7 linked regions of the Homo sapiens genome follow. The protein of the gene in region 1 interacts with the protein of each later gene in a pairwise test. Each region holds a gene or a part of one and is shown in the gene's direction. Other genes may lie near its edges. The genes, in order: HSPB8, RPIA, TRAPPC6A, SLC16A5, ATXN7L2, ATOSB and MISP.

What was found.
Region 2: the proteins of HSPB8 (region 1) and RPIA interact in binary tests that used the Homo sapiens proteins (3 or more experiments, as listed by UniProt).
Region 3: the proteins of HSPB8 (region 1) and TRAPPC6A interact in binary tests that used the Homo sapiens proteins (3 or more experiments, as listed by UniProt).
Region 4: the proteins of HSPB8 (region 1) and SLC16A5 interact in binary tests that used the Homo sapiens proteins (3 or more experiments, as listed by UniProt).
Region 5: the proteins of HSPB8 (region 1) and ATXN7L2 interact in a two-hybrid assay, tested with the Homo sapiens proteins (one large-scale study listed by BioGRID).
Region 6: the proteins of HSPB8 (region 1) and ATOSB interact in binary tests that used the Homo sapiens proteins (3 or more experiments, as listed by UniProt).
Region 7: the proteins of HSPB8 (region 1) and MISP interact in binary tests that used the Homo sapiens proteins (3 or more experiments, as listed by UniProt).

Annotation. Positions count from the first base shown.
Region 1 is NC_000012.12:119,188,931-119,192,088, forward strand, and holds part of HSPB8 (heat shock protein beta-8), read left to right. Parts: intron 1-3,158. UniProt on the Homo sapiens protein: Involved in the chaperone-assisted selective autophagy (CASA), a crucial process for protein quality control, particularly in mechanical strained cells and tissues such as muscle. Displays temperature-dependent chaperone activity.
Region 2 is NC_000002.12:88,694,673-88,698,172, forward strand, and holds part of RPIA (ribose-5-phosphate isomerase), read left to right. Parts: intron 1-3,500. UniProt on the Homo sapiens protein: Catalyzes the reversible conversion of ribose-5-phosphate to ribulose 5-phosphate and participates in the first step of the non-oxidative branch of the pentose phosphate pathway.
Region 3 is NC_000019.10:45,168,238-45,171,737, reverse strand, and holds part of TRAPPC6A (trafficking protein particle complex subunit 6A), read left to right. Parts: intron 1-3,500. UniProt on the Homo sapiens protein: May play a role in vesicular transport during the biogenesis of melanosomes.
Region 4 is NC_000017.11:75,097,954-75,101,453, forward strand, and holds part of SLC16A5 (monocarboxylate transporter 6), read left to right. Parts: intron 1-84; coding exon 85-228; intron 229-2,003; coding exon of another isoform or gene 2,004-2,053; coding exon 2,054-2,863; intron 2,864-3,500. UniProt on the Homo sapiens protein: Proton-linked monocarboxylate transporter.
Region 5 is NC_000001.11:109,482,519-109,486,704, forward strand, and holds the start of ATXN7L2 (ataxin-7-like protein 2), read left to right. Parts: upstream 1-1,386; 5' UTR 1,387-1,435; coding exon 1,436-1,562; intron 1,563-1,612; exon of another isoform or gene 1,613-2,313; intron 2,314-2,813; exon of another isoform or gene 2,814-3,538; coding exon 3,539-3,604; intron 3,605-3,987; coding exon 3,988-4,092; intron 4,093-4,186.
Region 6 is NC_000009.12:35,105,863-35,109,362, reverse strand, and holds part of ATOSB (atos homolog protein B), read left to right. Parts: exon of another isoform or gene 1-158; intron 159-625; 5' UTR 626-769; intron 770-1,013; 5' UTR 1,014-1,088; coding exon 1,089-1,982; intron 1,983-2,471; coding exon 2,472-2,530; intron 2,531-2,719; coding exon 2,720-2,825; intron 2,826-2,952; coding exon 2,953-3,111; intron 3,112-3,353; coding exon 3,354-3,422; intron 3,423-3,500. UniProt on the Homo sapiens protein: Transcription regulator that may syncronize transcriptional and translational programs.
Region 7 is NC_000019.10:754,112-757,611, forward strand, and holds part of MISP (mitotic interactor and substrate of PLK1), read left to right. Parts: intron 1-335; exon of another isoform or gene 336-698; intron 699-2,778; 5' UTR 2,779-2,835; coding exon 2,836-3,500. UniProt on the Homo sapiens protein: Plays a role in mitotic spindle orientation and mitotic progression.

The DNA of each region.
Region 1 (3,158 bases):
AGAGATCACACTAGCTGAATTCTGAGGCTTCTTCCAGCTTGGGATTCTACATTCCTGTCTCTTCCCCCACATGTCCGTCCCTGGCCCTCCCACAGCCTCTGCAGTTCTTGGAAGCCTGTGGACACTTCCTGATAAGGCAAACGCCAAACCATTTGTTCTTCGTGTTTGCTGGCTTGCCTGGCATCTCCGTGCCCCACACCTCTCCCTGGTTTAGCAAGCAGATTAAACATTGCTGAGGGAGAGGAAGGAAGGCAGGGGGTGGGGGGAAGCTGATGTCAAGGCTCAAATGAGGTCTCAGGGTGGAGTCACAAGCAGGGCATAGCTGTAAAAGGGACTGTGTAAGAAAGAAGTGAATTAATCATCTTAAAAGGGGTGTGTGTGTGTGTGTGTGTGTGTGTGTGTGTGTGTGTGTATTTCACATGCTCCAAGGCCTTAGGGGAGATAGCTTGCTGGAAGTAACCTGATGAGAAATGCCTGAAATTGCTCCAGGCTGGTGCTCAGCTGCTGAGCTGGGCTAGTTGTTAAAATATTCAGTGGTCCCCAACCTTTTTGGCACCAGGGACCAGTTTCGTAGAAGGCAATTTTTCCATGGACTGGGGAATGAAACTGTTCCACCTCAGATCATCGGGCATTAGATTCTCATAAGAAGCATGCAACCTAGATCCCTCGCATGCACAGTTCACAACAGGGTTCAAGCTCCTATGAGAATCTAATGCCACTGCTGATCTGACAGGAGGCGGAGCTCAGGCAGTAATGCTGGCTGAACTGCTGCTCACCTCCTGATGTGAAGCCTGGTTCCTAACAGGCCACAGATGGGTGCCGGTCCATGATCCGGGGGATGGGGACCCCTGAATATTGGCTAGCTATTGCCCTGAGCCCTCCCTAGCCAACCCCAGTCACTCTGATCTTGTCCCCAGGACCCTCTAAACCTCTCCACCTTCCAACAACTAAAGGGTCCCAGGACCCTCCTCCATCACTATGACATGCACCCATCCCTTCTGAATGGTCAGTGCCCAGCTGCACTAGTTGTTAAATATTTTGAATCTCAGCTCCGGGTGCAGGGAGTCCTGGCTCCATGAGAAAGTGAGTGGGTAACTTGGGGCAACTTGCTTAACTGCTCTGACCTTCCATTCCCACATCCCTGCATGGAGGGGTTGTGATGGGAGTGAGAGGATGTGTATAACGCATTAAGCATGGAATACAGACTCAGGGCTTGGTCCATGGGAATTAATATTATGAAAAGGCTTCACAAGGCTGGACTCACACTCCAGCAGCTGGGACTCCTGGGAGCTCCTGGCTCTGCCCAGACTCTAGACACCTAGGAGTCGAACTGGGGTCTGGGACACCTCTGGACCAATCTCAGGAGTCCTCGTTGCCTCCTCTCCCAGGGAAAACTCCAGTCATTAGAGGACAGGGAGATTCCTTCAGCCAGGCTGAGATCCTTGGAGATTTCCACCCAGGCAGGATGCTGCAGCTGTTTGCCTTAACCATGGCAAGGAAATTCATCTCAACACATCCATCTCTGTGTGAAAAGCCCCATTTGGACTGAATAAGGAGGAGAGGGAGAGGTCTTGGGTCTCAGCTTTCAAAGTCCATGATCTTCCTATTTGGTTAGGGGAAACCAAATTACAGTCATTTGCAATACCGTCATTCACATCCCATCTTCACTATTTTTTGCCTTATATGCTTACATTGCTGTACCATGATTTACTAAAGGTTTTTTTTTCTTTTAGATCATCTCATTTTTGATAAAGTTAAATTCTTATCACTGAAATGTTCACTGAGGAAAGCGATCATGAAATAAATCCAATGAAAGCAAACTGTGGTTAAATTCTAACTAGATAATATTGCCTGCCTAAGGGCCTCAGCTCTCTCATTGTTAAAAAGGGAAGGTAGCAAGTGATAGAGGCTAAAGGCGTTAAAGGCATGTTAGTACTTAGCAGAGACATTCCTTCAGATGTAAGTAGAAGCACTGAAAGAGAACTGAAGAGGAATTACTTTCCCACCAAATGGGTTTAAATACAAGTCACTTGGTTAGAGACCTTGGACTTGTCTATCTCTCTGAGTTTCAGTTTCCCCATAAGTAATATAAGAGCATTGTCATGGACAATCAGGAAGATCCTTTGGGGCCCTGATACTCTGTGGTTCAATGATCCTGCAATTTGTATGATACTCCATCTTGCTGTCAAGATGCCAACATGTAAGGTCAAAGACTGCAACGTAATTCTCACTCCACCCTAAGAGGTGGGTACTATTATTGCCCCCTTTTTTTCTGCAAAGAAACAGGTTCAAAGAGTCAAGATCACCAGCCCCATGTTGTGTGGTCAGGAAGAGTCAGAATTTGAATGCACGTCAGCCTGCCTGCAAAACCCATGCTCTAGGCCATAGCCACCCTGTCACACTGTACCTGGTGTGCACTGGGTTGGTGTGCACATGGTTAAACAGTCAGCCCATCCCCAGCATTGGGAGGGAGGTCTAAACTTTTGACTTTGTCTCCGCTTCAAAAGCTTGACTTGGCAGCTTTCTAGTTCCCTCTTTTTCTTCCAAATGGGCTTCCCAGAAGCAGCCTTGTTCATCTCCATGGTTCCAATCTGGCAAGGAATCTCCTGGGTAGATACGGCTCATGTGGCTACAGGTTGTTGTACCCACAAAAAAAGAAAGAAAGAAAGAAAAAAAAAAAACTCCCCAGCCCCTCCAGAAGGAGTCCTGCCTATGATCAGGAATGGGCTTACCTCATGCCTTGGTTCTTTCATCAAGACCCTCGTATTTACAATAGGCAGAGCCAGCAGGGATCAGTGGAAAGATTTTGATTGAACTGCCGGTCCTTCCTGCCATAGTCCTTCTTTCAAATGTCTGGTGCTGGGGGAGGCAGGAGAGCATCATGGTCAGATACTCTGAGTTTGGAGACCAGGATTCCAATTCCATTTCCTATCTGCCATTTGCCAGCTGAGCAACCTTGGGCAAAGCAGTTCACTTCTCTGAGTCTCAATTTCCTCATCTGTAAGATGGGGATAGCAATGGAATCTGCCTGGTGGGATTATTGTTAACACCAAAATGATATGATTCAGCTAAAGTACCTGGCACATAGAAAGTACTCAGAAGGTCATGGATTTCATGGTTAAAAAAAATAATGGCACCCCAATGAGATCACTAATATG
Region 2 (3,500 bases), on another chromosome or scaffold:
TCCCTCCTTCCACTTGCTCCTTTCTCTCCCCAATGCTTTTCTGTCTTGGAGCTGGCTGTAAAGAAATTCTGTGACCTATGTTGTCTGTTTGTACGTCATAAGATCCCCATTTCAGAAGGGTTCCTGTTCCATACCCTGGAGGAAGGAATGCTGCAGGTGAAGAAGAATCTGAACAGACAGCCGTTGCAGGGTTTCCCCAGTCAGTCTGCTAGTATTGGATCATGCCCTTTTTGTTCAGTCACATTTCTAGGCCCTTGCAATTCCTGGTCTTTTCCAAGAGCCAATCATACCTATTCAATAAAGTCTCAAAAAAAAAAAAAAAAGAAAAAGAAAAAGAAAAGCTCGAGAGGACAGGGTTTGGAAGCTTCTGGAGAGCAGAACATGTGAAGGTCCCTGGAGGATGGTGTGCCTAGAGAGAGCATGGAAGCTCTGTGCTCCTTCTTACATGCCTTTACCTATGCATCTCTTCATCCATATCCTTCATCATAGCCTTTATAAGCTGGTAAACATGTTTTCCCTGAGTTCTGTGAGCCACTCTAGCAAGTTAATCAAACCCAAAGAGAGTGTTGTGGAAACTCCAACTTGAAGCTGTCAAGTCAGAAGTTCTGGAGGCCTGGACTTGCATTTGGTAGGAAGGAGGAGGCAATCTTGGGAGCTGAGCCCTCAACCAGTGGAACCTTATGGTATCTCCAGGTAGAGAGTGTTGAAATTGAATTGGAGGATACCCAGCTGGTGTCTGCTGCAGAGTAGATTGCTTGCTTGGGATACGGGGAGAAATCCCCATACATTTGATCACAGAAGTCTTCTGTGTTGATGATTGTTGTGGTGTGAGAGCAGAGGAAAAAGTTTGAGTTTTTCCACACTCAGACATAGGCCTTGATAAGACATTTTCTCATTCCTTGAAGATTTTTATATGTGAGATATTTAGCCATTTTGAATGTTTCTGTACTGTGATGTATCATTTACTTGTCTTGAAGTCCTTGCCTTTGGGGATTGTCCAGGTAGCTAAACAACTTTACTACACACATTGCCTTCTTGAGAGCATTGGTATAGGTGGAATCCTGACCTAGTGCGAGCCCTGTTCTGACAGCCCAAGCCCCTGATGTATTCAGTGCCTTTGGAACTGTGAGCTAGTAAAAGCAGTTTCCACCAGGTCAATAACACAAAAGTTGTTGGATAAAGTCTTCTGTAGGTAGGAGAGGCTATAGTAGCATTTTTAGTATATATGTATATGGTTGTGGGGACATTAGTATTTGATTTTTTTTTTTTTGGTAACTCTACTTGTTGGTCATTCTTTCTAATCTTTTCTAGTTATAGATGTAGTCAGGCTTTGAGAAGGACCATATCTAATGTGAGGCCTAGGGGCTGACTTTAAGTATTCCTATGGCCTTTGTCCTGTGGGGAATGAAGGATTTTAGTTGTGGCCCTGCTTGTCCTGAGGGCCCTTCAGGACTTGTCTTCTTCCTAAAAAGAAGGTTTTACTATGGGCTTTCCTTTGTCAAATAAATTAATTGTTAATCAGTTGTTGGAAATCTTAAGAAATTTGAAATAGATTGATGTTTCAGCGAATTGAACTTCCTGAAGTTGCTTATTCGATTGAAATGGCTCATCCTGTAATCCCAGCACTTTGGGAGGCAGAGGTGAGATGATCACTTGAGGCCAGGAGTTCGAGACTAGCCTGGTTGGCAGAGTGAGACTGTGTCTTTTAAAAGAATTAAAAAAATTAGCTGGGCATGGTGGCATGTTCCCATAGTACTAGCTATGTGGGAAGCTGAGGCAGTAGGATTGTATGAGCCCAGGAGTTTGAAGATGAGTTTGTGTGTGTGTGGGGGGGCATTGATAGTTTATATATATTATAAACATATATACAAGATATATTGTATATCTTGTATATATATTTAAAACAGGTAAAATCACACATATATAAAACAAATATATGTCAAAGATTTTATTTAACTCACTAAATTAATGAGGGAACTGGAAAGGTTATTAGAACCTGTTCATAGGTGTCTTAGTCCATTTTGTGCTGCTATAATAGAATACCTGAGAATGAGTAATTTATAATGAACAGAAATGTTTTGGCTTATACTTCTGGAGGCTACGAAGTCCAATATCAAGGCGTTGGCATCTGGTGAGAGAGACAGATGTTGAAGTGCTATGGGTGGGCACCAATCCTACCCATGAGGGTGGAGCCCTCTGACCTAATCACCTCTTAAAGGTCCCACTTCTTAATATTGTTATAATGGCAATTAAATTTCAACGTGAGTTTTGGTGGAGATGTTCAAAGCATAACAGGAGAAGTCAACTGTAAGCTCATATGTAGTAAAAAAATCTTAAAATGAATTTAGAAGATCTGTTAATAATTGTGTCTCACAGAACACTATTAATTTGCATTTCAATGAACAAAACTTACTTGCTTTGTTAACAGTTTTCTGCAAGTTAAAGTGTATCTCTATACAGTCGTCATATATCTTAAAGACAAAGGCACATACCTTCTTAGAGTCAGACAATACAAGCAGGTTCCAGCATCCCATTGGAAGGATATCCAGTAGTCTCTTTTGCTCATTTCAAAGTCTTAAGTTTTTCCTTACAATATTGAACTCATCTATAAAGTGGAAATAGTGGCTCTGTAGGTCATAAGTGATTGTTGTGAGATTTGGCTTTATATTAACATTTATAAGTCTTCTTGGTAGGTGCTTAATAAATGGTAGCTGCCGCTTTGGTGTTCACTTGGCTTTGCCTTGCAAAGGCAGGAGATAGATGTCAGGAAGTTGCTTAGGCACTGAGCTGCATATTAGTTCCTGACTGTTAGTACCCTGGCCTCGTTTTGCTCTTTGTGGTCTAGTAGACTCAGCTGAGCTTTTACTCTTTGGTCTGCTTGCAGGTACCTTCTTTGTTTCTTCTTGTTTGGTCTGCTTGTAGGTACCTTCTTTGTTTCTTCTTGTTTGGTCTGCTTGTAGGTAGGCTCCGTATTGTGATGTCTGCCTGTACTTTGTACTCAGGAAGTGCTCTGCATTTATTATGATCCTTTCTATTGCAGATGAAGACTATTTTTCATGTTCTTAACTAAGCCTTTGCCCTCTTTCCATTTTCTCTGAGGCAGGCTCATGCAAAATGAGCACCCCTTGGTGTCACCTAGGCAGATGCTGACATACTTTATTATTTTGAGGTTACTTCAGGCCCTCCCTTTATCTGCTGACTTTGGGAGAGCTCTAGATGGTGGGCCTGATGTGTCTTGTGGTGCTACCAACTTGAAGGTGCCTATGGAAGACACTGAAGCCAGAAGCCTTAGCTTTCCTCCCTTACCCAGGCTCCAGGCTCTATTGTTTTTTCTTAGGTGTTTTTCTAATTGCCTCCCTGGGATTGGCCAGGAATCTTTTTCTTTTCTTTCTTCTTCTTCTTTCTTTCTTTCTTTTTTTTTTTTTTTTAAACACACTGTTGCTGGCTTGAAATGTCAGGAATCTTTAAGTGTTTATATGCAGGCCATTTCTGTGAGGGTG
Region 3 (3,500 bases), on another chromosome or scaffold:
ATGTCCTGTAGGCACCACAGGGAATATTAGACTTCCTGCATCTCTTCCAAGCATCCTGTAGCTTTTCTCTCATTTTTTCCTCCCTCCTGTTTTTCTTCTGGGAGGTGTTATCTGTCTTACAGGTTTCTCTGTTATTCAGTTCCCTTGTTAAAAAGTGTTGATTTTGGCCACCATATTTGTTCATTTCCAGGAACTCTGCTTTGTGTCTGATTGATCCTTCCTGTGTGGTGGATGTCATTAGCACCGACACTGATAAGACTTCCCTTCCACCTTTCCTTTCATCCGGTCTGTGTGTAAACTCAGCAGAGGCAGGCGTGGGGAGCCCCAGAAATGCACCGGCTCTGGGCTGGGCTCTGGCAGATTCATATGAATGGGAGAGTCTCTGTCTGGCCAGCCCTTCTGTTTTGTTTTGTTTTGTTTTGTTTTGTTTTGTTTTGTGACTGAGTCTCGCTCTGTCACCCAGGCTGGAATGTGTTGGTGTGATCTCAGCTCACTGAAACCTCTGCCTCCCGGGTTCAAGCGATCCTGGTGGCTCAGCCTCCTGAATAGCTGGGATTATAGGCGTGCGCCACCACGCCCGGCTAATTTTTGTATTTTCAGTAGAGACAGGGTTTTGCCATGTTGGCCAGGCTGGTCTCAAACTCCTAACCTCAAGTGATCCTCCCGCCTTGGCTTCCCAAAGTGCTGGGATTACAGGCAAGAGCCCCCGCGCCCAGCCCCTTCTGTTTTTAAGAAAGATAAACCCCTAACCTCTGAAGAGCTTTTGCAGTGACATGGGCATGGACACCACCAGGTCTCGCTGTGATGAGGTGGGTGGAGGCTTCTCCCTTCCTCCTCCGCCCTTTCTTCCCTGCCTCCTGCTCCTCCTCGGCCCCTCCCTTTTGCTGTGATTCCCCACAGCCCTTTTCAGTTCAGCCAGGATCTGAATGGCCCCTGTCCAGGGCTGGGTACAGTGGGGCCAGCAGTCACACAGCCGTGTATCCAGCTGTTGCCACCTGCCAGTCACACCACCACTGTGAGCAGGTACTGCCATTAGCCCCATGGCACATGTGGGGAAACTGAGGCACGGGATGGTTGGCTAATCTGCCCAAGGTCACAGAGCCAGTGAGTGGCGGGGCCGAGATTCAAACCCAGGCAGTGTGAAGTTCATGAAGGGAAAAGCTGAACTTGCTGGAACCCCTTCAGACTCCACGCTCCTGGCCTGGCTGAAGGACCCTGCTGACTCTCTCCCCCAGCTCACCCCTCCGGGGGCTGCCGTCCTGGCTGTGACCTGGGCCTGGTGTGCCTTCACAGCCCACTCCTGCTGTTGAACTCCCCCTCTTCCCTCAGGCTCAGCACAGTCGGGGTGCTTCCTAGGGGTGGGAGTGCACCCTCGCAGCACACCTGCCTCCCTCTTGGCAGTCGCTGTGAGCATAGTGAAGCCGGCCATTGCACCTTTGCCCATTCCCCGGGTGAAACGCCAGCTCCAGCAGGGCAGGGACTGAGTCTGTGGCCCACTGTGGCTGGCATTCAGGCAACGTGGCCTGCGTTGACCCTCAGGTTGGCTGCACTTGCCTGCAGGGGAAAATGCCCCCTCTGCAGCCCACTCTGAGGGCCCCTTCCCTTCCCCGCCTCTCACCCCTGCCTTGGCACATGCCCTTTGCTTGGAATACCTGCCACCTCCGGCCCCCTCCTGGAGGGCAGGCTCTGCACTGCACTGCCCGGGCCCCTTGCACTCAGTCTCCCAGCCCTTCCCAGATTGTCAGTTGGCATCATTTGGGCACCTGTCAACCCTGCCAGGCAAGGTAGGTGAGCTCCTGGAGGACACTAGGAAATGTCTGTGGCATGAATGAGGGAGGGACATAAAGGAGCCCTTAGCGAGTGGGGACACAGACGTGTTCCACCAGAGTGCAGCCTGGCCCTGCCTCTGGGAGCTTTGCTGTGGACACAGACGTGTTCCCTCAGAGTGCAGCCTGGGCCCTGCCTCCAGGAGCTTCGCTGTGGGAGGAGGTGACACGGGAGCCGCAGCTACCAGGCAGCGAGCTCTCGCCCGGGCTGTTCTAGGTGCTGGCTACAGGAGCCCACAGAACAGACCCCCTTCCTTCCTGGGGTTCTCCTCCAGCCAAGGGCTTCATCCCTCATTGGCTGGGGCCGTCTCCTTGTTTGACAGATGTGGAGGCTGTGAATGCAATAAGTAAGGCTCCCGGAACTGCCTTGAAGTACTCAGGTTGCCTTTACCAACCCTTACTCCTTGTGAGGATCCTGGAGGTAGCTGCCATTAATATTCCCCTCCTTTGGGCTGGACGCAGTGGCTCACACCTGTAGTCCCAGCTACTTGGGAGGCAGAGGTAGGAGGATCACCTGAACCCAGGAGGTAGAGGCTGCAGTGAGCCAAGATCGTGCCATTGCACTCCAGCCTGGGTGACAGAATGAGACCCTATCTCAAAAACAAACAAAATGACCCTCTTTTTTACATGAGGAAACTGAGGCACAGGTATTCAGCCATTGGCCCAGGTCCCACACTGGTAAGTGCTGGGGCGGATCTGGACCCAGGCGGTGGCTCTGCACCTGCGCCGCTGGTAGTGCTGCCATGAAGGACCCACGGGCAGGGGTCTCTTCCCACTCTGTCTCTCACACACACCTGCCCGTCTCCTGCAGTCATCGGCCCCTTCCATGAGCCTCTGCTGTGTGGCCGGCCCTGCTGTGCCTGAGGACACTGGAGGAAAGCAGATGGTGACACCAGAGGGAGACAGTGCAACAGGAAGCCGTGTCGTTGTCACCCATGAGGGCGAGGCCTGGCAAGGGGCCAGGCAGAGGAAGGGCCACCTTGGCTTCAGATATGGGCGACCTCAGCTCAGGCCCCCCCGCCATTCCCAGCGCTCCTCACCTCCGTGAGGCCCTCAACAGCCATGGCTGTCACCCCACCCACCCTCCTATCTGGACCTGCTGGGGTGTGAAAGACAGTCCCGTGCTGAGGGTGCCTTGGATGGGTTCTTCTTAACCTCAGAGCCCCTGTTTCCACCTGGAATTACAGCCTTCTGTGAGGCTGGAAAGGTAAAACAAGAAGGCTGTAGAAAACGCCTGCCACACAGTATGCCGGTCCTGGAATAACATTTTGTTGTGACATTGATGAGGAAAAAATAATGATTCCCGGGACCATTGTCTGGGTGGTGGTTGTGGGTTCTCCCTGTGCTGGTGCAAGTTCCTCTGGGCTCTCCTTTCCTTGTGCATCCTTGGGATGTGTCCGCTGGGTGAGCTCCCGGGTCTCCGTGGGCCCAGTGTGAGTGAGTGTGGGCCCGTGTGCGCCCTGTGATGGGATGGCGTTCTGTCCAGGGTCCATTCCTGCTTTTGGCCCTGCCAGGACGGGCTCTGGCCACCCAGGACCCTGAGCTGGAGGAAGCGAGTAAATGTCTTACTGGTTTTTTGTTTTTTATTTATTTTTTAAGACAGGGTCAGGGCCGGGCGCGGTGGCTCACGCCTATAATCCCAGCACTTTGGGAGGCCGAGGTGGGTGAATCACG
Region 4 (3,500 bases), on another chromosome or scaffold:
CTGGAACTGCCCTCTCCAGCCACTCTCCTCCTCTCCCGCCACCTCCTCATTCAGCTGCTACCTGCTGGCTGTCTTCTCCCACAGGGCCCCTGTGCAGCATCCTGGTGGGACGCTTCGGCTGCCGAGTGACCGTGATGCTGGGGGGCGTGCTGGCCAGCCTGGGCATGGTGGCCAGCTCCTTCTCTCACAACCTCAGCCAGCTCTACTTCACAGCAGGATTCATCACAGGTGACTATCACTTCATCTCCAGAATTTATAGGCACCTGCTAGAAAGTGCCAGGCACAAGTGGACAGGGCAGGCAGGCCTCTTAATCTTCTGGAACTGCTGGCTGGGTGCGGTGGCTCACACCTGTTATCCCAGCACTTTGGGAGGCTGAGGCGGGCAGATCACCTGAGGTCAGGGGTTCGAGACTAGCCCGGCCAACATGGTGAAACCCTGTCTATACTAAAAAAAATACAAAAATTAGCCAGGCTTGGTGGCGGGCCCCTGTAGTCCCAGCTACTCGAGGCTGAGGCAGGAGAATCGCCCGGGAAGTGGAGGTTGCAGTGAGCCAAGATCGCACCACTGTACTCCAGCCTGGGCAACAGAGCAAGACCCCATCTCAAAAACACAAAAAACAAAGTGCTGGGATTACAGGTGTGAGCCCATCATGCCCAGCCCTTTCACGGCATTTTGTTTTAAGGGGACTGGAGGAACAGACTATACCCAGAAGTGGTTATGAGGTCAAGACAGGCTTTTTTTGTTTGTTTGTTTGTTTGTTTTTAATGGGAGAAATAACGAAGGAGAAGGATCTAGGAAAGAAGAGAAAAAGGATGATGCAGGAGAGAGGGGACTTGCTAGAGGGGTGCCTCTGAGTGGAGAGGATGCAGGGCAGAAGGGAGGGACAGCCACTGGGGGAATGGGCAAGCCATTGTCACTGGCTAGCAGGCATGTGGGCAGCTGAGCATAAGGATAGGGAGGAGGTGTTGGGGGGCACAGAGGAAGACACCGGTAGTCACCTAGCAGGGCAGGCAAGGCATGATTGAGGGAGCTGTAGTGGCGTCACAGGCAGCCTGAGGGCCCGCCTGAGGCCACGGTCACACATGATTGAGAACTTTTTCTCCAGCATGCTCAGGTGTGCAGGTGCAGACACTGAGTGGGTGGGGAGCGGGGAAGGCCCCTCTGGAGAGGTGGCGTCTGAACTGAGAGGAGAGTGGAAAGTCTGGAGGAAGCAGATTCCAAGAAGGAACAGCAGCTACAAATAACCCGAGGTAGGGGCAGCTTCATGTCCAGAGGCAGAGAAAGAAGTTCCTGTGTCTTGATCCTAATGAGTGACAGGGAGCAGCCTGAGATGGCATCTGAGAGGCGGGCTGGAGCCGGACCACAGAGAGCCTTCCAGGGCATTGTGGAGACTGTGGATTTTTTGTCAAGTGTGATGGGAAGTCTTTGGAAGGTGTTAAGCCAAGAGAGACTTAATCCAATTTGGGGTTTGTTTGTTTTTGAGACAGAGTCTCACTCTGTTGCCCAGGCTGGAGTGCAGTGGCACAATCTCAGCTCACTGCAACCTCCACAACCTCAGCTCACTGCAACCTCCACTTCCCGGGTTCAAGTGATTCTCCTGACTCAGCCTCCTAGGTAGCTATTACAGACTACAGGCGCCTGCCACTAAGCCTGGCTAATTTTTTTGTATTTTTAGTAGAGATGGGGTTTCACCATGTTGGTCTCGAACTCCTGACCTCAAGTGATCCGCCAACCTTGGCCTCCCAAAGTGCTGGGATTACAGGCGTGAGCCACCGCGCTCGGCCCAATTTGGGTTTTTAAAAGATAACTCTCGTGCTACACCTAGGGGAACAGGGATGCCCTGGCAGCCTTGGGAGGGCAGATCTGGGGTGGGGTGCCTACAGGGAGGTGGCGAGGCCAGCTGATTCCATGGTCAGTCCCCAGGGACTTGGAGCTGGGTATGGACTAGAACCAGAGGAGGGCAGGTGTGTGAAATGACCACTGACCCCACCCCTGGGTGCAGGTGGAAGGCCCCAGTGCGCCTCCAGGCTGGTTTCCCCTCTTGCCCCGCAGGCCTGGGCATGTGCTTCAGCTTCCAGTCAAGCATCACGGTGCTGGGCTTCTACTTTGTCCGCCGGCGGGTGCTGGCCAACGCGCTGGCCTCGATGGGCGTCTCCCTGGGCATCACCCTCTGGCCGCTGCTCTCCCGCTACCTTCTGGAGAACCTGGGCTGGAGGGGTACCTTCCTTGTCTTCGGCGGGATCTTTCTCCACTGCTGCATCTGCGGGGCCATCATAAGGCCTGTGGCCACCAGTGTGGCCCCTGAGACCAAAGAATGTCCCCCGCCACCTCCCGAGACACCTGCACTTGGCTGCCTGGCTGCATGCGGCCGGACCATCCAGCGCCACCTGGCCTTCGACATCCTGCGGCACAACACAGGCTACTGCGTGTACATACTGGGTGTGATGTGGTCCGTCCTGGGCTTCCCACTGCCACAAGTCTTCCTGGTGCCATATGCCATGTGGCACAGCGTGGACGAGCAGCAGGCAGCCCTCCTCATCTCCATCATCGGCTTCAGCAACATCTTCCTGAGGCCCCTAGCCGGGCTGATGGCAGGACGGCCGGCCTTTGCTAGCCACCGCAAGTACCTGTTCAGCCTGGCACTCCTGCTCAATGGGCTCACTAACCTGGTGTGTGCGGCATCAGGTGACTTCTGGGTGCTCGTGGGCTACTGCCTGGCGTACAGCGTGTCCATGAGTGGCATCGGCGCCCTCATCTTCCAGGTTCTCATGGACATCGTCCCCATGGATCAGTTCCCCAGAGCCCTGGGACTCTTCACTGTCCTGGACGGCCTTGCTTTCCTCATCTCCCCACCACTGGCCGGTGAGGAGCTGGGAGGGAGGGCAGCCAGATAGTGTGGTAAAAGGGGAACAGTTTAGACAGATCTGGGCCCAGTCCAGCATCTCCAGAGGTTGTGCTACAGCTGGTTTCCAACCTGGCACTCAGAGTATGAACAGTTAAAAACATGGGTTTGGCCCGGCGCGGTGGCTCATGCCTGTAATCCCAGCACTTTGGGAGGCCGGGGCGGGCAGATCATGAGGTCAGGAGATCGAGACCATCCTGGCCAACATGGTGAAACCCCGTCTCTACTAAAAATACAAAAAAATTAGTTGGGCGTTGTGATGGGCGCCTGTAGTCCCAGCTACTCGGGAGGCTGAGGCAGGAGAATGGCATGAACACAGGAGGCAGAGCTTGCAGTGAGCTGAGATTGCGCCACTGCACTCCAGGCTGGGCAACAAAGCGAGACTCCGCCTCAAAAAGAAAAAAAAAAAAGCATGGGTTTGTGACCAGGTGCGGTGGCTCACGCCTGTAATCCCAGCACTTTGGGAGGCTGAGGCGGGTGGATCACGAGGTCAGGAGATCGAGACCAACATGGCTAACGTGGTGAAACCCCATCTCTACTAAAAATACAAAAAAATTAGCTGGGTGTGGTGGCGGGCACCTGTAAATCCCAGCTACT
Region 5 (4,186 bases), on another chromosome or scaffold:
ATCAGCTTCTTGTTGAACAAACTTGCACCTCTATCCCTCTTCAGAGAGTCACACACTACATTTACATCCCCTAGAAAAATACCTTGGGTACAATTGAACATTTAATTTTTACCTGATTCCTGGATGCCCTAGGGATCATCTGTGGGTCTCAGGTTGAGATTCCCTGCCCTCAGAGATTATTCTTGAAGTACTTACACCTTCCCTGGATGAAAAGGAGAAGAAAATCTGAGGTCTTGCTCCCCAACTTGTTTTCCCCTTAGCTAAAGGGTCAAGCGTCGGGGGTGAGGTGTGAGAGGTTGAGGAGGAAAAAGGATTAGTATTACTTTTTTAATGCGATGGCGGCGGGGGGGGGGCGGGAAATGGAGTAGGCAGACTTTTGTCTGATTGTGTGAGGGTGGGAAGAAATGTTATCAGCTGAGAAGATGAAAGAAATGGATGATTAAGGTACTTTCCAGACCTTAGCAAGGAAGATGACAGCTCTGATGAGAAATCTCCCTATGCCGAGGCTTCAGAAGCAGCCCTTCCAGCAGAGAAAGTATTCATTAGAAAAAGAAGGCAAAGTGATGGATGGAGTCAGGGTCCAGCCAGGGTTTGGGAAGAGGCTGTACAGGGTATCGATCGCAGTTCTCAAGAGAAGAGAGACAGATCAGCAGAGATGCTGCAAACACCAGCTGCCTCGGGGCCACCCCAGTTCTGGGGCTGGCTCTGGCTCGGAGACAGCCTTCTGTCATCCTGTCATCATGACAGGTGATCTTGGTCAGCTTGGCCAGGTCCTCTCAAATCCAGACAACGCCACGCCAACCCTCTGCTCTGCATCAGGGCAGCGTGGGTTTCCCACAGAGGAGGCACGACACGGGAGCCGAGGCCCTCCCCCACACCACCCCTGTGTCCTTCAGCACCTCCTACAGACTCCCTCCCCTTGCCCTTCTGATTCACAGCGCCCACCTCCCTGCACCTACCCTATTCGATCTACAGGGGAGCGGAGTCGCTTCGTGGCCGCCAGCCCGGGAAGGGGCGCCAGCCAGCTGGCGGACGCACGGCTTAGAGGGGCGTCTGGGCAGAGAGGTTTGGGGCTGGGGAGAGATGCAGTGAGCTTGGGAGAGTGGACTGGTAGCACAAATAATGTGTGCATAAGGGTTAGAAGAGGAGGTCCTGGAGCTTTGGTCTTCTCTTTTCCCCCTGCAATTGTGCATTTCGGAGGGACTCTTGCTGCAAGCTCGGTAGGCAATAGCATCCGCTCCAAGACTACACTTCCCAGAAGGCTGTGAGTGGGTGGGGGGGGGGGGGGCGCGGGGAACAGGCAACCTGTGTTGCGCTTGCGCAAAGACTGCGCTGGAAAGGCAGGTGGGGAGGAGGGGAGGCGTGCCCGCGACGGGGCGAGGGGGAGGGGGCCGCGCGGCGGCGGCGCCAGGGCGGGCGCGCGTCCGCGGCGGTGATGGCGGTGCGTGAACGCGCGGCGGCAGCAATGGCCGCTCTGGAGCGGCGGGTGCCGAGTCTCGATGACTTCGCGGGACAGAGCTGGAGCTCGTGGGTGGAGCGGGCCGACCTGCCCGCGGCTGACGGTGAGTAAAGCCACCCTAAAGTCCGGGGACCCCATCACTATCTCCCCTCCCCCCTTCCGGGCCCCCGCCAGCTGAGGGGAGCCGCCGACTGGAGCCGCCGTCCGGCTCCCCGGCCCCCCAAACAAAGGACCCGCCGGGTCCTAGTGCCCGCCCGCTCCGTCACCTTCGCGCCTCCGGGTCCTAGCGCCTGCTCACCGCTCGCAGCCCACCCTGCCAACCTCTGCCTCTGCCAGTCGCTAATACCTGCCCCCATATAGGCTTGCCTTTATCTTTCTCCTTGCCTGCTGCCCCTCAGCTCGCGACCCTCCTGCACCTGCCTCCAGCTTTCCCTGTCCGCAACAGTCCTCCACGTGTTTCCCACGCACCCCACTTCTGTGCCCCCTTCCTCACCCCCCTTGTTCCTTCGCCTTTTGCCCCACACCTCCTGCTCCTTTTCGGCATTTGCCTGCAGCTGCAGTGCTTTTAGACCCCCGCCCTCTCCGCGTTAGTTCGTCCGTCCATCCATCTATCCTCCCTCCCTCCATCCTTCGGTCCATCCATCCATGCCTCCAACCCACTGTCCTTTCCCAGGCCTCTTGCCCTGCCTCTTGGCTCTCTGCTCTTACTCTCACCTTCTCTAGGCCCCTGAGTGCCTTAGTGAGCGGGCCTACAGCCCCTTCTTCTGATCTTTGTCTTCTGGGCCCCAGGGAGCACCTGGCCTCGTGGCCTTTCGGGGTGACAGCAGGCATCACGCCCCTGAAGAAGTTTGCAAGTGAGAAGAGGTGGAGGAGGAGACTGCACGGAGGGGTCTCTAATGACACTTGTTCTCCTCTGAGACATCCGACTCCCAGTTTCGTTCTATCCATCATTCCCCGCACTTGCATTTAACGGACTTAGAGTGGGAGCTGCCCCTTGTCTCTTGCGTGCCTAACCCACGACCCCTCATAATCTGGATATTATATAAGATTGTCAACAATCTTCTCATCCTAGAAAGGAGCATATCTGTTAATGGGCATCAGAGAGCAGACCTAAGTGGGAGCCCAGGCCACCCTGGGGCTGCCCCATGCTGGGTGGGCAAAGATGGGGCCATTGTCAGGGTCTGGGTGCATTGAGAACCGGAAATGGAGTCAGACGGGTTTGGTGACTCAGAATTGATTTTTTTTTTCCCAAGGGACAGGGAGGGGGCGTAGAGGAGGGAGGGGGGAGGAGAGAGGTAGGGGGATGGGGAAAAAGCTGCTTTGCACAGCTAAGATGTTTTTGTCATTAACCCAGAAACTGAGGTACAAGGGCAACCCCTGCCCAAAGGCCCTCTAAGAAGGGGAGGGACTTGCATAGCTGACCAAGGAGACTTTGAAGATGCTCAAGGACCAAAGACAGCAGTTTCTCTGCTCTGTGACCATCCTATCAGTGCAGGACCTGAGAAGCTGGGTGTAACTTTGACAATGCTATGGTAACCCAGGTGGAGCAAAATTGAGTTCATGGGGGTGGGGACCTGGGAGAGTATCTATTTGGGATGCCACATAGTAGCAGAAAGGACCCATCGAGAAATCTCAAGAAGAGACTCAGGGACTTATAGAAACATTGGTTAAGGACGGTTTCCCCTTTAAATGGGGAAGCAGGCCCAGAAAAGAGATGATACTTACCCACAATCACCCAACTAGTTAGCAGTGGAACCCTAAACTGCACCTTGAAGTGAAGGGTCCCATAAGAAAGGTGGATGGATTCTTCTTAGTGGGGCCATCTTAGTCCAGATGCAGCAGGTGAAGGAAGATGGGCATTTGAGAATGGACCCACTGAAAGGTTCCCCAAGTGGTCCTAGCACCAGGAGCTTGTCACGGAGTGTGGGCTTCATACTGTTGAGCTGCAGGCCCTGCTTGGGGCTTCTGGAAAGGGGACAACCTCTGGGTTGTCTTCTGGGAAGAACAGTCTCTGGTAAGGAGAGGCTGGAGACTCTCTAAAACTGGCCCTGACCCTTCTGAGCTGTGTTTCTCCTCTAGGGGCTGAGCTGGAGGAGAGTAGCAAAAACACGAAGAAGTTGGATGCCATGACCCTCATTAAAGAAGGTGGGAGTCGACACACATTAGGGCTGGGACCCAGGGCAGACAGGACCACGCTCCACTTTTCCACCACACTACAGAAGGAGGTGGCTGCTTGAAGCAGCTGTCTGGGGACCCTCATTTTGATAGGTCCGAGTCGGCCGGTTGTTCTGGCTCCTGTGACCTGTCGTTGGAGATCATAATCATAGGTGATTGCCCACTCACCTGAAAGCGTATACCCTTTGGGACTGCTTAGATCGAACTCTGGAAGCTGGAAGCATTCAGCATGGAGCTTGTTATATCAGCGGGGAGGTGAAGTGCCTTCTGAGTGTGGGGTGGGAGTGCTCTCCGATCTTCCAGAGAAACCCTGGGATCTTCAGCCCCAGTGACATGGGCTTCTGTCATTGCAGACATGTCCATCTTCGGGCACTGCCCTGCCCATGATGACTTCTACTTGGTTGTGTGTAACCACTGCAGCCAAGTGGTGAAGCCTCAAGCTTTCCAGAAGCACTGCGGTGAGGGGAGCCCTAGGGAGGAGATAAAGGGACAGGGGAAGGTGGAGCATGGAACTCTGAGGACAGGGTCAGTTGGGAGGTCTCGTAGGGTAAT
Region 6 (3,500 bases), on another chromosome or scaffold:
CTTCTGGCAGTGACCCCTTCCCCTTCCCCTTCTTGTTTTTGGTCGGATTTGTTGCCTCTTGTTAAAGAGACAGGCTGCTGGAGGCAATTTGGAGTTCAGGGCTGAAAGGCCAGCTCTGAGCTGACTTGAAATTTGTACCTCTGAGGACCGCTGATGGGGTATAACTGTGTGGGAGACCTCTGCCCTTAGTGCCCTAGGATGGCACTTGTCCCTTTGGAGATAGACATATAAGAAGGAGTTGTGCAATTTGGTGGCTTTGAGTAAGAAAGCTGAATTCTTCCCCTGGCCGCCTCTCAGCTGACACGGTCTCTTGGATCTTGGGGGTCTCTCATCCCTTCCTCCATGTAGGGCAGGAGTCCTCAAATGGTGGCCCTGACAAGTAGTTATTCTACCTCAACTCACTTGTCACATCCTTATTATACTGAGCCAAGACCTGCCTCTTTGACTCCTTAGGTAGCCCAACTCTGCCATCTGTGCCCTGGACCCCAAGCCTACCCTTTCTGTTCCTGAAGAGCCTCTCACATGGGAGAAGGATGTCCTGGAGTGTACTATTAGCCTATAATTGGTGACAGGCCTTACCGCTGGCTCCAGTGATCCTGGCTTACGTCTGTTCTTCTCTCCTCAGGGTCCTGCTGAGCTCAGGAGCTGCACGGAATGGTGGCAGTCACCTTGCCAGTGCAGCAGGCATGGATCAGACTGCAAGCTAGGGGCACGAGGCATCAGTTGGGAAGAGGGGACGCACAGCTAGGCTTGAGGCCTCTTCATCGGGGTAAGTACCAGGGAGAAGAGGGGGAAGTGTGTCCAGTAAGAAGCCTGAGCTAAACCTGTCACCCTCTCAGGAGTTCTGAGAGTGGTCTCTATATTCCATTAGTCCATCCAGGGATTTGTACACATTCATCCTTGGGAACCCATCAAAGTCACCCCTTTAGGCAAGGAGAGGGTCTGAAACTCAGCTGGAAGGAAGAAGACTCATTGATTCCCCTGACCACCTTTTCTTCTCTTCTCTTACACAGATGTCCCCAGGCCCCCCAGCCCAGGCCCAGCATAAAGGCCGTGTTGGGGGGCCCCCCTGACCCAAGGGGGGCTTCATGCGCCACGTGCAGGCGGAGCCGTCTCCATCCTCAGAGCCGGAGGCTGGCCCTTCACAGCCTCCAGTCAGGCAGGGGGCCCTCCAGGGTGGCCTGCTCATGGGCTACAGCCCAGCAGGGGGGGCGACATCCCCCGGGGTCTACCAGGTATCCATCTTTTCCCCTCCGGCTGGTACCTCTGAGCCTCATAGGGCCCTGAAACGACAAGCCCCATCCACTGAGGGTCCCCGGGAGCTGAAGAGAGGCCCTGGGCTGGGGGCCAGAGAGGGACTACCCCCTGAAGAACCATCTACTGTGGGGCTCTTAGGCCCAGAGGGACCGGGGCTGGGACTAGGTGTGGCCAGCCAGCATTTCTCCCACCGTGGCCTCTGTGTTGTGGAACAGAGAAGTAGTGTCACCTCATCTTGGACTTCGGGGGCCTGGAGTCCCCCCTGCCCCCCATCAAATGCTTCCTGCAATACTTTGCACACCAGAGACTGGGCCTCCCCAGATCCAGGGGGACAGGGGTCCCTGGGGGAGTCCCCAGGGCCAGCCCCTCCAGGCCAGCTGCACACACTTGACACTGATTTGCACAGTCTTGCACAAATAGGGGGTAAGAGCCCAGTGGCTGGGGTGGGCAATGGGGGTAGCCTCTGGCCTAGGGAGTCCCCTGGCACTGCCAATGGGCACAGTCCCGAGCACACACCCCCTGGCCCTGGACCCCCAGGCCCCTGCCCCACCAAGCGAAGGCTGCTTCCTGCTGGAGAAGCCCCAGATGTCAGCTCTGAGGAAGAGGGGCCAGCCCCTCGGAGGCGCCGGGGATCCCTGGGCCACCCTACTGCTGCCAACAGTTCTGATGCCAAAGCCACACCCTTCTGGAGCCACCTGCTGCCTGGGCCCAAAGAGCCTGTTTTGGTAAGCCAATAAAGGACCTCATTTACTCTTTTTTTACTTTTTTTTTTTTTTTTTTTTTTTTGAGATGGGATCTCACTCCATCACTGCTGGAGTGCAGTGGCACAATCTCAGCTGACTGCAACCTCCTCCTCCCAGGCTCAAGGGATCCTCCAACCTCAGCCTCCCAAGTATCTGGGACCACAGGCACATGACATTGCACCCAGCTAATTTTTGGTATTTTTGGTAGAAATGGGGTTTCGCCATGTTGCCCAAGCTGGTCTCGAACTCCTGAGCTCAAATCATCGACCCACCTTGGCCTTCTAAAGTGTTGTGATTACAGGCGCTCAAGCCACTGCGCCTGTCCTTCATGTACTCTTAAGTGGATATTTGTGTGGGTAAAGGTGGAGGCCTGGGGGGCAGGGTGTTCCTTTGAGAGTTTGTGATGAGCTTCTGCCCCAAAACATACATGGCCTTCACCCTGTGTCTTTTCCCAATCATTTCTCTCCGTAGGACCCAACAGACTGCGGTCCCATGGGGCGGAGGCTGAAAGGAGCCCGTCGCCTGAAGCTGTAAGTGACCAGCTTTTTCCTCTACCCTGTCCCTGAGAATGGGGGCAGAAGTCTGTACTCTTTCCAGCATCCGAGTAGGGGACCCCAGGGCAGAAGCCCTACATAGTGGCAGAGGGTGGAGTCCAAGGGCATAAGCAGGAATCCCAGAATACCTCAAGCCAACCCCCTGTGTTTCCCTTCCTCTACCAGGAGCCCCCTTCGAAGCCTCCGGAAGGGGCCAGGCCTGCTGAGCCCCCCCAGTGCCTCCCCTGTTCCTACCCCTGCTGTCAGCCGTACCCTGCTGGGCAACTTTGAGGTAGCTCCCGTTGGGGTTTGTGATTGCCGGGGTCCTGGGAGAGGTGGGATGGTGGAATGTGGCTTGGATGGATAAGGAAAAGAATTGGCATCTCTCTCTTCATGTGTTTTCCCTACCCTAATCCCAGGAATCATTGCTGCGAGGACGTTTTGCACCATCTGGCCACATTGAGGGCTTCACAGCAGAAATTGGAGCTAGTGGGTCATACTGCCCCCAGCACGTCACGCTGCCTGTCACTGTCACATTCTTTGATGTTTCTGAGCAAAATGCCCCGGCTCCCTTCCTGGTATGCCTTGACTCCAACCCCAAAGTCAGCTCATCAAGAGGATGAGGATTTGGGGGCGGGGCCAGGGGGCAAGAGGTATTTCTTACTTATTCCTCACCTAGAAGTGAGTCAGGGCCAGGTGAGGAGAACTCTACTGTAGGGCAGGGGCAGGTTCAGGGTGAGAGCTTGTGGAGAGGGACATGTGTTTAGGGCCCAGGGTTTTCCTAGTCCCCACCTTGACTGATGGCTCCCTGGCCTTCCAGGGCATCGTGGATCTGAACCCCTTGGGGAGGAAGGGTTACAGCGTGCCCAAGGTGGGCACCGTCCAAGTGGTGAGTTTGCCCTGAGGGAGTGGGAGTGGGGAGAGAGGAAAGCAGCCCTCAGGCCCTACCAACCTTGACTGTCCTGTC
Region 7 (3,500 bases), on another chromosome or scaffold:
GTTCAAGACCAGCCTGGCCAACATGGTGAAACCCGTCTCTACTAACAATACAAAAATTAGCCGGGTGTCCTGGCTGGGCGCGGTGGCTCACGCCTGTAATCCCAACACTTTGGGAGGCCGAGGCGGGAGGATCACGAGGTCAGGAGATCAAGACCATCCTGGCTAATATGGTGAAACCCCGTCTCTACTAAAAATACAAAAAATTAGCCAGGCGTGGTGGCGGGCGCCCGTAGTCCCAGCTCTAGGGAGGCTGAGGCAGGAGAATGGCGTGAACCTGGGAGGCAGAGCTTGCAGGGAGCCGAGATCGCGCCACTGCACTCCAGCCTGGGCGACAGAGTGAGACTCCGCCTCAAAAAAAAGAAAAAATTAGCCGGGTGTGGGGGCGGGTGCCCGTAGTCCCAGCTACTCAGGAGGCTGAGGCAGGAGAATTGCTTGAACCCGGGAGGTGGAGATTGCAGTGAGCTGAGATCACGCTACCGCAGTCCAGCCTGTGCATCGCAGCGAGACTCTGTCTCAAAACAAAAGACAATACCTAAGACGGGTGCTGGGTACAAGGCCTGACATGAAGGAGGTGTTCAGATGATGGCTCTGGGGGAGGGGCAATCTGGGTTACTTCCTGGAGGAGGTGTCCATGGGCTTCAGCAGAGGAAGCCGTGGAGAAGCAGAAACAGGCAGCCTCGAGACAGAGAGAGCTGCAGGTAGAGGAGGAGGGCGAGGTTTGGGGTGGAGGAAGAGGGCCTGGTTTGGGGTGGAAGAGGAGGGTCTGGTTTGGGTTGGAGGAAGAGGGCCTGGTTTGGGTGGAAGAGGAGGGTCTGGTTTGGGTGGAAGAGGAGGGTCTGGTTTGGGGTGGAAGAGGAGGGCCTGGCTTGGGGTGGAGGAAGAGGGCCTGGTTTGGGGTGGAAGAGGAGGGCCTGGTTTGGGGTGGAAGAGGAGGGTCTGGTTTGGGGTAGAAGAGGAGGGCCTGGCTTGGGGTGGAGGTGCCCACAGAAATTGGGGTTTCGTGCTAAGGCCAGGAGCAGGGTGTGAGAACTGTGCCCTGCAGATGCCAGGAGCCACAGAAGCGATGCGAGCAGGTGTGTGACCTCCGGGAAGGCTCCTGGAACTGAGCCCAGCAGCAACCTGGACCCTTGGGAGAGGGCGAGAGCCGGAAGGCACTGGGTCAGGGTGTCACCCGCTCGCTCCACGGCCCCACCTGGGCCCAGCGGGACAAGGTCCACGGTGTTCCTTTGCCCATCCTGGCTTTATGGCGACAAGGCCCAGGCGGGGATGTTGTCTCAGATGGGACGAGGTGTCCAGCTGGGCAGGGCAGGGTGGAGAACCAGGATGTGGGAGCCGGGAAACTGGAGTTGCTGTCAGTCCTTCTCTCTGGGCCTCAGTTTCTCCATTTGACATCCCTTAGCAAGGGGCCATCTGTAATTGTCAGATGGAAAAATCCCACACCAGGAGTCTCAGAGTGAGCTCAGGGTGGAAAGGCTCAGTGCACAGGAGACACAGATAAATATGGTGCGGCCAAGGAAGGCTTCAGAGATCAAGGCTGAGGCCAGGCGCGGTGGCTCACGCCTGTAATTCCAGCACTTTGGGAGGCCGAGGCGGGCAGATCACCTGAGCTCAGGAGTTCGAGACCAACCTGGCCAACATGGTGAGACCTCGTCTCTACTAAAAATACAAAAAATTAGCCGGACTTGGGAGGTTAGCGCCTGTAATCCCAGCTACTCAGGAGGCTGAGGCACGAGAATTGCTTGAACCTGGAAGCAGAGGTTGCAGTGAGCTGACATTGTGCCACTGCACTCCAGGCTGGGCAACAGAGCGAGACTCCATCTCAAAAAAAAAAAAATCAAGGCTGAGCTGGACTCCACAGGGCAGGTGTGTGTGTCTGGGAGATAAGGTGGGCAGGGCACCCTGATTTTATTGGGCTGCAAATGTTAGAAACATATAATGCGAGTTGTTGGGGTAGTAACCGGGACATTCAGAGATTCAGGTATGGTTGGAATCAGGGAGCTTAAAAGTTTTCAGGATGCTTTGCTGGTGTTGGGGTTGCTGTCAAGCAAGCTGTACCCACTGGGGGCATTTACGTCCCCAGCAATTCACTATCTCATTCCATCAGCCTAACAAGACCAGCGGGAAGAGGGTCCCATCTTCTGCATTAATTGTAAAGTCCCAGGGTCTCATGTCATTGGCTAGACTGGGTCACATGCTCATCTCTGAACCAATTACAGAGGCCAGAGGGTGAAATGCTCTCACTGGCTGGACTAGGTCACTTACCCATCTTTGAACCAATCACAGAGGCCAGTGGGTGGGATGCTCTGATTGATCAGGATGAGTCACTTACCCATCCCTGAACCAATCACAGAGGCCAGAGAATGGGCTACTCTGACTGGCCAGGCTGGGCCATTTACTCATCCTTGAACCAATCACAGAGGCCAGAAGGTGGGATGCTCTGATTGGCCAGGCTGAGTTACTTACCTATCCCTTAGCCAATCACAGAGATTAGACAATGGGCTGCTCTGAGTGGCTGTACTGTGTCACGCACCCCTAAACCAATCACAGAGGTTAGAGAATGGGATGCACTGATTGGCTGGACTGTCACTTACGCACCCCTAAACCAATCACAGAGGTTAGAGAATGGGCTGCTCTGAGTGGCTGGACTGTGTCACTTACCCATCCCTAAACCAATCACAAAGGCCATTTGATGGACCCTTTGCCCTTTGGGGGACTGGAGGCTGTTCCTCTCCCTAGGTGCTCTGACTTGATGGCCCTCATTTCCTTCTCCTCCCTCAGTAAGCCCAGAGGTCTCCACCCCACGGGAGGAAGGCTGAGGCCAAGACCCCGGAAGAGATGGACCGCGTGACCAGATACCCCATCCTGGGCATCCCTCAGGCACACCGTGGCACCGGCCTGGTGCTGGATGGAGACACCAGCTACACATACCATCTGGTGTGCATGGGCCCCGAGGCCAGCGGCTGGGGCCAGGATGAGCCGCAGACATGGCCCACTGACCACAGGGCCCAGCAGGGCGTGCAGAGGCAGGGGGTGTCCTACAGCGTGCATGCCTACACTGGCCAGCCGTCCCCACGGGGGCTCCACTCGGAGAACAGGGAGGATGAGGGTTGGCAGGTTTACCGCCTGGGCGCCAGGGATGCCCACCAGGGACGTCCAACATGGGCACTCCGCCCAGAGGACGGGGAGGACAAGGAGATGAAGACCTACCGCCTGGATGCTGGGGACGCTGACCCCAGGAGGCTGTGTGACCTGGAGCGGGAGCGCTGGGCCGTCATCCAGGGCCAGGCAGTCAGGAAGAGCAGCACCGTGGCCACGCTCCAGGGCACTCCTGACCACGGAGACCCCAGGACCCCCGGCCCACCTCGGTCCACGCCCCTGGAGGAGAACGTGGTTGACAGGGAGCAGATTGACTTCCTGGCAGCGAGACAGCAGTTCCTGAGTCTGGAGCAGGCGAACAAGGGGGCCCCTCATAGCTCCCCGGCCAGGGGGACCCCTGCAGG